3 linked regions of the Homo sapiens genome follow. The protein of the gene in region 1 interacts with the protein of each later gene in a pairwise test. Each region holds a gene or a part of one and is shown on either strand. Other genes may lie near its edges.

Region 1 (3,750 bases):
GAAACTAAAACAGAAGTAACCAGGGGCTGGAGGAAGAGGTCATAGGGGTAATTGTTTAGTAGGTAGAGAGTTTCAGTTTAAAATGATGAAAAAGCTCATGAGAGATCAGTGATGGCGGCACAACATTGTGACTATACTTAGTAACACTGAAAGGTTAAAAATAGTACCTTTTATTATGTATATCTTACCACAATAAAAAGCCCCACAGGGTAGTCAATGTTATGTTTAAAAGAGAAGAAATAAATGGGAAGTCATTTTAGATATGTATTTACACAGGTCTTAGAAGAGCTATTCAGCAGATGAGTACCTAATGAACTGGAATTTTGGCAGAGATCCTGGGAGTGAAGTGAACCAAATCACTTGGGAAGTGTGAAGTAATTTCCTCCTCCAGGGAGGTCAGCAGATAGAACATGTGAAGCCAATGTTAAGATTTCTCTGGAGTCTAAAAGATTATCAAATTGGACAAGTCTGTTCTCAGTGTTTTCCAACAAGGTGCAACTGACGTTTTGGACAGAACAACTGCTTCATCCTGTAGGACTCTCCTGCCTGCCACATGGTACTTAATACCCCTGAACTCCAAACCACTTACCAGGGGCATTCCCCTCACCCTCATCACTCTAACAATCAAAAAGAAACCCACCCACGTTTGTTACCACGACTACCATGACCCCAGATCACTCAGATGACAACCACAGAGTGATTGAATCCAAAACTGAAATAGGAGCACCCTGGTCTGTTAGGATATGACAAGCTATAAAGCAGTAGCAAACAACCCTAAATCTCAATCAATAGCTTCAAACCAAAAAAAAAAAAAAAAAAAAAGGCTTCCGTCTTGTTCACATTACATGTCCATCACAGGCCAGCCCAAGGCTCTATTCCACACTGTCCTCACACCAGAACCTGGGCTGATAGAGCTACCACTCTGCAGAATGCTGACAGATGCAGTGGCAGAGGGAATGAGATACAGTAAGTGGTATGCTGGCATTTAAATAATTCACTTAGAAGTGACATATAGTACTTCTCATATTCCACTGGCCAAAGCAAGTCAAATAGCCTTGACTGTTTCAGGGCCAGGAAAGTGCAACCCTACACCACTTACCTGGAAGGAAAAGAACCAGCCCTGATGACTTCCAAACTATGCCTGCGAAGTGCTCTGAAAAGTAGAAAACGCTATATAAATGTTAATTAAAAGAGTATATTACTAACAATACTACTTTGCCCTTCCATCCATTCAATGGATATTTATTAGGCATCTAATACATGCTGGACATCGTCTCCTAAGCATCAAATATATGCCAGACACCATGCTAAGAGAGCTGATGAAAACTGAGTCGTAAGTGGTAGGGTAAGAGAAACAATCTTTAAACAATTCCAGTGTGGTATGATAAATGTGATCAGGGAAGTCAGCCCAGGTACTCCAGAAGTTCCCAGGGCGAGCACCTGAGCCAGCGGTGGGGGCAATGGATGGGAAGACTTCCAGGAGCAGTAACCTACATAGCTGCAGGATGCAGTCACCCTGGAGAACCTGCTGTAGATGCACAGGTGGAAGCATGAATGTGGGCGCTGTGGATGGGGTGTCCCTGCCTTCCGCCAAGTCAATGAGACCAACTTGCCACAAATTCCCCATAGCCCTAATCTGCAGTCACTTCCACTAAATGTCCACTGACACATTTATAGGTTTTCTTGGTTTTCTAGGCAGACCGGATGTAAAGAACAGATTTCTGGGACTACTCTCCACTTTCCCCCCAACTAGAACATTCTATGAGATGCTCTAAGTTCAAGGAGACAACATTCTTTCAGTCCAGTTATCATAAGCTTGGTTCTAACCTCAGCAAAAACTGCTTTCTTTCAGCTAATATAGCGCAACAAAAGGGGAAATGCCCTAGGAAAACAATGTGTCAGAGGCTCCTAACCATTGAAAATCAGGCACATTCCCTTTATGAGATATTAAATACATTATAAAGAGTTATTAAAAATAGTGCAGACTCCAACACAAGCCGTAAGATATACAGTATACCACCCTGAGATATTTATTTCCTCTAATAAAGAAAAAAATATTTTTTCAACAGAAAATACATAAAATACACATCTAGAAACACTAGACAGTCACTAAAAATGAAAACTGTAAAGATCTCTACGCTACTAGGAAAAGTAATGCTGATAGTGCTAAGGAAAGCAGATTCCAACAGCAATCATACTGTAAAGGTTAGACAAAGATGACGACTGTGCTACAGGCAAACACTTCATGGAAACTGCAGAAAATGGGGCACGGAGAGTAGGGGAAGCAGAGAAGTGGTTCAGTGCAGCTTACGGTAACATGTTATTGTTTGTACAATGCAAATTTCACATAAAAGTCATTCCTATGTAAAAGCTTGGTGGATCTTATTCACATTCCCAAACTGACTTTTACAGGCAGTATAAAGCATAATCTGGTGAGTTCCTAAAAAAGAACCAGACTAGCTGCTGTTAACACTCCAGCCCTTCTAGTTAAAGGGAGGAGGGAACAGGGCAAGTTTCCTGACTCACCAAGGCCCGGTGATTCCAGCAGCAAGGGCCAATTCCTTACAAATTGCCCTGAGCAAATTAGTCAATTTAGCCTTATCTTTAAAAGGCAGATAACACAACCTACTTCACAGAACTACAGTGGGGATTAAATCTGATAACTTTTAAGTACTTAGCACAGCATGACTTTTAAAAGGAAGTGATAGTTTCCATTCCTTGGGGGCAAAAAAGGATGGCTCTTAAGGTCTCCCTCTACTCTCCAAACCCAAGGTCCCCCAGGTCCCCATAGCACAGAGCAGGAGCCAGCTGAGCTCTGGCAAAAGCAGAAGAGGAAGGGAGTTCAAGCATGGCCTTCTGGTAGAGAGTGTGGGGAAAGAGGCGTGTTTTCTGTGTCTTTGTTCTTCCACCCTACCAATGCCTAGCACATAACCGGTGCTCAACTGACTATCTGATCAGTGTACTAACCCAGTCAGCAAGCCCTCTATCCTCAGCTGATGATCATGAAGGAAAACAGGCAGGAAACATCAACGATTTATTTGAACTAAAGCTCAGGCCCCTTGCACTGTGAGACTCCACACTTTATTTCTGTGCTGCATGCAGGGTGCTAGCATTTACTACTATGGAAGATACATTTTTCTGAGTGTTAACTTCAGTGGTATTTACCAAATATGCCTCTGAATGGTCCTATTTCAAAAAAACTACAGAAAGCACTGCTTTTCATAAACAAAAAGAACAAAATGGCCCCAGTAGTATTTTCTTATCTCTATCCCTACCTACTTTAAGTAGCCTGTAATCTATTCCATTTTGGTGAATAAAGCCGAGTCTTTTCTAAAACAAAACTGTATACTGGAGGTAAATATTCTAAAACATAACTTTGAGTAAAGGAAAACTCTCAAGAGCAGTTTAAATGTAATGCCTGGCTTATTCTATTCCAATGATGTTCTAATCTTTTTCATTAATTTACTCTAATGTTTGTAATTGTTTTAGGCCACAATTATCTCATTGTTTCCTGGCCTGTGTACCTGATCAGAATCATTATGATCTCTGAGGTTTTCGCCTGATTTTTGAGAATCCTGCTCTGCTATGGATGGGGTAGCCAGCAGAACACAGAACAACCAAGGAGCGTTTTAAATACAAGACTATTAGAGTGGCAAATCATTGTCCTTTCTGTGACCAGCTTCTGGGGCTCTGGAATTACATGTTAAACAACAGGATCAGATGGGAGCACTTTGCAGCTAAGAGACCAAT
Region 2 (3,750 bases), on another chromosome or scaffold:
CTTTTAAACCACACAGAACATATGAAATCCATGTTAACATTAAGCCCATTTATTAACAAGTATCTGGCCCAATAATTATAGTTAGGTAAATAAAATACTTCAGAACTATTTTATAGGCTGCCTTACAAATAAGATAACTGTCAAAGATGCATTCTCTTTATGTGAAAAGTTACACATGTTCTAAGTTTAACACTCCACAATGAACTGTGAAATTTCCCTAAGCTAATACTTAATATTGGAAAACTTCAACAGAATATTGGAAAACTTCAACATCATCTCTTTTCTCAAGCACCTTCATATTGCTCCCATAGTTCTTATAAATTGTCCAATAACCCAGACAAATTTCCTTGTGGACAAGAATTTTTAAAATTTAAAGTATTATATATTAATACAATGACTTTAGTTAAAAGTAAAAATTTATTGATCCAAAACTGCCAAAAACCTTATGCTAAGCAAAAACTTCATTTAAGCTTAATGCTCTTTTTAACTCCTGCACGAATGCCAGATAATTCACCACTATAACGTTGCTCTTCTTTACGAACTTCACGAACCTGGCCTCTTCTTCTAATTTTGGCTCTTCTGAACTTCTCTCTGTGTTTCACTCTGGGATTGCGATCAATCTTCTTTCTCCTAGGAGTAAGTCCCCTATTTTTAGCAATTTGATAGGTAATAGCTCTCTTTGCATTTTGATCTTCAAGAGCCTGTTCTTCAGTGCTATTTTCTTCTTTCTTTCTCTTTAGCTTTTGCCTGTCTTCTATTTCTTTATAGTACTTCAGTTTTGCTTTTTCATCAAAATCAGAATCATCAGAAAGATCTGTAACAGCACAGGCAGCAGCAGAAGTCTTTGAAACAGACTTTGGTTTGGGCTTGGTGGATTTTGCTTTTGGAATCAGTTCTTTCTTTACAGCATCATCCTTAAGTGTCAACAGATGACGAATTTCTGAGGACAGCTTCTGATCCACAACGGACAGCTTGTTGATCAAATTTCGGTAGGTAACAAGCCTTTCTATGACAGGATGTCCATGTGCTGGGACTCTCCTAGCTTTCAGGATCAAATAAAAACTGATGTTCGAGCAATAATTCAAGTAGAGGTTGTACTTGGTCCTCAAGTATTGGCTTCCTTTTCCGGGTGGAATGATCCCTTGTTCCACCAACTCTAACAATGGCTCCAGCTCATCCTTAACCTCTGTCAACTTGACTTTCAGGTCTTCTATCAGCTCCAAGAGTTCTGGTGATTCCTTTCGCAACATTTTCAGCTTCTCTTTCACTGAAACTTTAGCCAAATCCTTCACGACCCGTGTCTCAGCCTCATCTACCTGAGGCACTGGTTTTGCAAAGGCCTCAACCCAGGCGACACCAAAATCATCCTCTTGCAGCGCTTGGGCTAGGCGCCGCTGAATGATCTGTGCCTCCTCCTCCTCCTCTCTTTCCTCCTCCTCTGCCTCCTGTTGACTCTGCCGGCCTCGGGACTTGGAACCATAGTCCGTGTCATAGTAAAGTTTTTTCCTCTGACCCCACGACAAACTGGGATCCACAGAGGCCTCAGCTTCACTTTGCACGGAGCTCCCACCATCATCATCGGCATTCTCCTCCTCCTCCTCCTCCCCCGCATTCCCTCCATCTTCGTCGTCCTCATCGTCCATATCTAGGGCTAGCACCTCCTCCTCCTCCTCCTCGCCATCCTCCTCGTCTCCACTCTGTACTTCATTCCAGCCCTTAGCTAAGGCGGCCCGGGATCGTGCCTCATGAAAGTCATCTACCTGATCTTGGTAGTAGCTGGTGTCCCCTGGTGAGGGTGGCAATCCTAAATCATCTCCATTTTCGTCGGTGAGCGTGGGACCTGCCTTGGCTCGCACAGCTGCCCACTTAGCTGCTCCGCGCCGCCGGGATCTCCCCACCATGGCTCACAATCTCAGGTTTTACAGCGACTCCGGACTTTCGGCCACCACTGACTTCGGCGCAGGAATCAGGCGCTCCGGTAACTCGTGGCTCTAAACAGCAGCGCGCTCCCCTACCACCGGAGTTTGCAGACTCCTGATCGGCTACTGGAATTTCCTCTTCCTTCCGGCCCCCAGCATGCTCTCCGCGTGGCGTACGATTGAGGACTTCCGCTCGGTCCCTTAGTCGAGATCACGTTGATACCAACTTCCTTTTCACTGTGCCCTTTAACGCCAGTCGATTCCGGTGAATTAAAATCTTTCCGTGTGGAAACGATAGGATAAGGAAGTTCCGTTCCACAGAACGCTTTCTCGGGCTAATGCGCTTACTCTCGAGTGCCTGGGAGTGGCTGGGGGACGGAATCCTGACGGCACCTCCAGGCGAGGTCCCGATGGCCAATAGAGGGCGCTGCGCTTTACGCCCCGGAGAAGTCCCGGGGGCGTTCCATTGAGGTTTAACTGCGTGTGTACCCGGCGCTTGCGACCGGCAGTCTAGTGCTAGCGTAGTTTTCCTGCTCCCTTGTTTTCTCTTTTCTGCTTATCAGGCTGGAAGTTAATCAGATTGCTTTCCTCTCATTTCACCCCCACCCCCAATACCATATTTCTGGGTACCACAGCCTCAGGCAGCGCCGCTGGACTCCAGAATCCCACGGGAGGTTTCCGGGCGAGAGCGCAGGCCGGGCCTCCGGCTCGGGTTTACTCATCCCCATCGCCCTCTCCCTGCTCACAGGGCTCGGTGACCCGCTCCATGGGGATCGATAAAGCTAGATGACCCCGAGGCTGACAGTGGGAAGGCAGAGCCCCGCTGCAGGGTCTGACTCTTCTCAAGGAAGTCTGCCCTGTAATGTTAGAGTAATTCAGGGTGTAAGTTTTTAGGCATTACATATGTAAGGTTCAGGGTTAGTATTATTATACCTTTTAATGTAGGTAGTTGGAAGCTGAACTTTTGATACGTTGCTAAAATTAATGGTGACATGGCTGGGCGCGGTGGCTCATGCCCATAATCCTAAGCACTTTGGGAGGCCGAAGTGGGTGGATCACTTGAGGTCAGGAGTGCAAAACCAGCCTGGCCAACATGGGGAAACCCAGTCTCTACTACAAATACAAAAAATTAGCGGGGCGTGGTGGCGGGTACCTGTAATCCCAGCTACTCGGGAGGTTGAGGCAGGAGAATCACTTGAACCCGGGAGGCGGAGGTGGCAGTAAGCCGATATCGCACCACTGCACTCTAGCCTGGGCGACAGACAGAGACTCTGTCTCAAAATAAATAAATAAATAAATAAAATAAAATTAATGGTGACAATTTCTTTTTCTTTTGTTTTTTGTTTCTTTTTTCTTTTTCTTTTTTTCTTTTTTTTTTTTTGAGACGGAGGCTCGCTCTGTTGCCAGGCTGGAGTGCAGTGGCAATCTCGGCCCACTGCAACCTCCGACCCCCTGGTTCAAGTGATTCTCCTCCCTCAGCCTCCCGAGTAGCTGGCATTACAGGCACGCGCCACCACTCCCAGCTAATTTTTGTATTTTTAGTAGAGACGGGGTTTCATCATGTTGGCCAGGATGGTCTCCATCTCCTGACCTCGTGATACGCCCGCCTCGGCCTCCCAAAGTGCTGGGATTGATTACAGGCGTGAGTCACCGCGCCCAGCCAATGGTGACAATTTCTTTTCAGAAAGTATAGTGTCATTAGGTTAATAAAAATAATGCAAAATGTTAGAAAAGTGATACTTTGAAATAAACATTTTCCAAGTGCCTAAAGGTGTCCGAAACATTTTGAAATTTTTACAAGATTTTAGAAAATAAAATTAAATTAGAAAGT
Region 3 (3,750 bases), on another chromosome or scaffold:
GGCTGGCAGGAACATTCCCCACGAAGCTGAGGCTGGTAACCCTTCAGCTGGGTGTTAATGCCTTCAAGTGGGTCCACCTGGCTACTCCACACCCAACTGGTCCTGCATGCGGCCCAACACTGAGAGATTTTAGGACAACCTCTGGTCTCAACAACAACAGCAAAGCAAAAAAGAATGATGTCCTATTAATGGTCAGGACTTGCCTTGCCAGGGCTAGTGTTAAGCACTGCCTACTTGAGCTGACATCAAGTATCCTACCTCCTCCAATCACATGGGTACCCCAAGCGGCCTCATTCATTCCATCAGCTTATTCCTCCAGCCAAACTCAGTGAGGTATGAAAGAAGGGAGAGGCAAGGCAGAGAGACAGTTCTGATCCTCGCTCCTCCAGGAGCTACACAGGTGATCACGCACACATCACTATGAATATTTCCCATATACCTAATATTAACCTCTGAGAATATTTCCTCTTTCCAACCCCTCTCAGTTTCATGCCTCTGCTCCATCTTTTTAAAACACCATCTTTTTAAAATAGTCAATGGGAAGCACAAACAATTTCACACAAACTCTACACACCTCCTAATTAATACATTTCTTGGCCTTCAAATCTAACTGGTTTTAAATAAAATAAGAAAGGAAATTGTCAAGGCTGGCAAAGAACACTGAAAGGATAAACTGCAAGCCCCTACCCGCCATGGAAGTTTCAGGAGGGTTGCAAAGCTTAAAGCATAAAGCATACTGCCTCTTTTCTTTCAGGTATGAAGGATACATTTAATTGGGCGCAGTGGTGGTGGGTTGGCTGGGGCAAGAAAGTGTTAGTATTTCGCTTAGCTTTCACATCATTTTGTGAATCCTGCAAATAAATACTCCCTAAAAAGAAATTTGAATTCACTATGAGTTAATAGACTTAGTTTCTAAATGTGGCCAATTAGAAATTGATAAGATAGATACAATGCACCACGGCATAAATATTGCTTGCATTTACACTTAGAGTTCAAGACACATAAATAGGTCCCCAATCAGAGTTCTGAAGAAAACAAAAGAATGAAAAGAAAAGGGCGGGGGGGGGAGGGCGGCGGGTAGAAAAACCAACAACAGTCATTTCCAAATTACACCCTTTAAATTATACTCAAATTATGAAAATAGAAAATGATTGTGCAAAAACCCAAAAAAAATTTTTTTAAGGAACAATATGAACAAGGGAAAACCTTAAAAGAAAACCATCTTGCACTATTTTGCATAGAAAATTCAGTTCTGGTGGATTTGGGCTGTGTCTGTAATGCTTGGAGGGGACAGGGATGGACCAATAAACAACCTTGCATGCTCATATTTGTAGCCAGCGCAAGGAGAATCCAAATATACCACTATTAAGAATGGGTGTTGGGATTCACTGATACACAAACTGTTCAGCTCGGCGGTTAAAAAAAAAAAAAAACACCAACATTAAATAAATAAATGAAAAGGGTGATATGTCTAAGCAGAACTGATGCTACCTATTTATTGCTGGAAGCCAGTACTCTGGTGAGTAGGAGACAAAATGATTATTTAAAAGCTCCTTTTTATCTCTGCAGCACCATGCAAGACTCAAATGAACCTTTCGCCAGGACACCAGAGATGTTAACACTCATCCTCCAAGATCCAATTTCAACCAGCGGAGCTGTTACCTAATCCAGCAACCATCACATATGATCAGGTTCCTGCTTCCCTGATGGGTGCCCTGCGCTCTCTCCCTCCCCCTCATCTCTTCCCTCCCCACCCCAGCAGCTTTTTTCTGAAATAGGTTTTAAAGGGCCAAATCCCTTGTTTGTCCTCATGCATATAGGGTTTTAATGGCCAGGCAGGCCCGGACGCGTCCACTACCCGAAAAATGTCATTGATTGCAGTGGATATGCAATCTGCAGAGGGGTTGCGCCCATGAAGATATTTAACCCATTTGGTAATCATTCTTACAGAAAGAGTTTCCTTCCCACAAATCCACCCAATTATGGAAGAGACCAGTTGAGACAGGTAGGTGATTTATACAGGAATTGTCACAAGTCCTTTAAAAAGCTTCTGATGTCACATGTACCTTGCTGCCATCGCTTGCCCTGGGGTTAATTCTTTGGTAAAAGTCCTAAGATAAAGGGACTGTCACAGCATTGTGGGAGCTGCTCTCACCACTTGTCTCCTGCTGTTCTTTCTTTCTTTTTCTTCACACAAGGAGAAAAACAAACCAAACCCAAAGGCATAGTCAAGATCATCCTTGGCGGGAGGGCCGTGTGGCGGGTTGTTTTGTCCTTGGCTGAGTGACGTGGGTCCGGAGCAGCTCCAGCCAATGCCCACTAGAGGGCACTCTTTCTTCACCAAGGACTGGTTCTCCAGGCGGGCGGACAGTCAAGTGTCCAGGTTCATGCTGGGGGAATGCCTCTGCTCAGATTCAAACTTCCACAGGTGGGGGCAGGTTGGGAGGGGAGGAGGGCAGATCTACAGGGAGGGTGGTCTTCAGATTTGGACAACAGTCCAGGGGCCCAAAGCTGAGCTGAGAGAGAGAAACAGATAAAGAACAAGACAGAAAGCAGAGGCAGGTGGTCTGGGGAAAGGCACAAGGTAGCCTCCCAACGGTGTGTGCAAAAAGGCAGGCTCTCTCTGGCTGATCTCTTTGTTTGATTTGTAGGCACAAACCTCCATGCAGAGTGTTCTATTGCCCAGGAGCTCAGTCTTTACCACATCCTACCAGAAGAGTTAGAAAAGAGAGACCAGCTCTCCCCGCCTCATTCCCAAGTCAGCTATGCAGTTTTAGGAAAAGAGCAAAATGCTTGCTTCCTGAGAGCATCAGAGTTATACCTTTTATTTGTTCATAAAGTACTTGCACGCACTGAATTACATCACCTTACAAAACATGAAGTAATGTTCCAAACTTACATAGCAGATAACCGAAGATTATAAAGGCAAAGCACATTTCCCCAAAATCAAAGCAAATGAGACACAGCCGACACTGAACTCTAGATCTTTAACTCTCAGACACTTCAGTCCTCTACAATATTGGAGTTCTGAATCCTTTTCACAACAGGCAGCTACATGGATGTGATATCTATTCTGTGCGTGTGTGTGTGTGCGCGCGCACACACACACACACACACACACACACACACACACACACAGTCTCTTCTGATGCCCAAGGCACACCGATACTCTGGCCAAGAAGAAAACAATCAGATAGTAATGGAAAGAAGGAAGTTTTTTCTATTGATTTCCTAATTTCTTTTAATTTCTCTAAATCTGGTCCTTTCCCATTACCTCTTTCCACCATCATGGTTAGAGCCACTGTATTGGGTGATAGAATGCCCTCTTCTTTCTCAGCCACAGAAATCCACTTACTACAGTCCTATTTCATTTTAAATCTCAGCTCAAAATCCTTCATGAAATCTGCCCTGACGAGAAGAGCCGAAAATGATCTCTAAGCCTCTGAGGCACCAGGGCACGTACTGCCTAGACCACAGCCATGGGGCATCTCAGGACATGCCAGGGCACACCTACCATCTTGCCAGCAAGACTGTGAACTCCTGAAAGGCGGTTCCCCACACAACCTCACAGGGCCCCTGACACTAAATGTCTGTTCCAATATTTCTTAAGAGCAATATAATAAAGAATCAAGGAGGGAAGATACGGGCTGGTGAGATCCAAGGATCTGTGCCTCAGCTTCCTGTTCTCAGCCAGGCAGCCAATTCCCTGTATGTGCTCTCTTTCCCCCTGCATTCCAGTTACAAGTTGTA

The links.
Region 2: the proteins of CDCA7L (region 1) and UTP3 interact in binary tests that used the Homo sapiens proteins (3 or more experiments, as listed by UniProt).
Region 3: the proteins of CDCA7L (region 1) and PBX1 interact in binary tests that used the Homo sapiens proteins (3 or more experiments, as listed by UniProt).

What each region holds. Positions count from the first base shown.
Region 1 is NC_000007.14:21,939,163-21,942,912, forward strand, and holds part of CDCA7L (cell division cycle-associated 7-like protein), read right to left. Parts: intron 1,154-3,750; exon of another isoform or gene 1,100-1,153; intron 1-1,099. UniProt on the Homo sapiens protein: Plays a role in transcriptional regulation as a repressor that inhibits monoamine oxidase A (MAOA) activity and gene expression by binding to the promoter.
Region 2 is NC_000004.12:70,686,829-70,690,578, reverse strand, and holds UTP3 (something about silencing protein 10), read right to left. Parts: upstream 2,048-3,750; 5' UTR 1,902-2,047; coding exon 462-1,901; 3' UTR 28-461; downstream 1-27. UniProt on the Homo sapiens protein: Essential for gene silencing: has a role in the structure of silenced chromatin. Plays a role in the developing brain. Part of the small subunit (SSU) processome, first precursor of the small eukaryotic ribosomal subunit.
Region 3 is NC_000001.11:164,786,070-164,789,819, reverse strand, and holds part of PBX1 (pre-B-cell leukemia transcription factor 1), read right to left. Parts: intron 1-3,750. UniProt on the Homo sapiens protein: Transcription factor which binds the DNA sequence 5'-TGATTGAT-3' as part of a heterodimer with HOX proteins such as HOXA1, HOXA5, HOXB7 and HOXB8. Binds to the DNA sequence 5'-TGATTGAC-3' in complex with a nuclear factor which is not a class I HOX protein.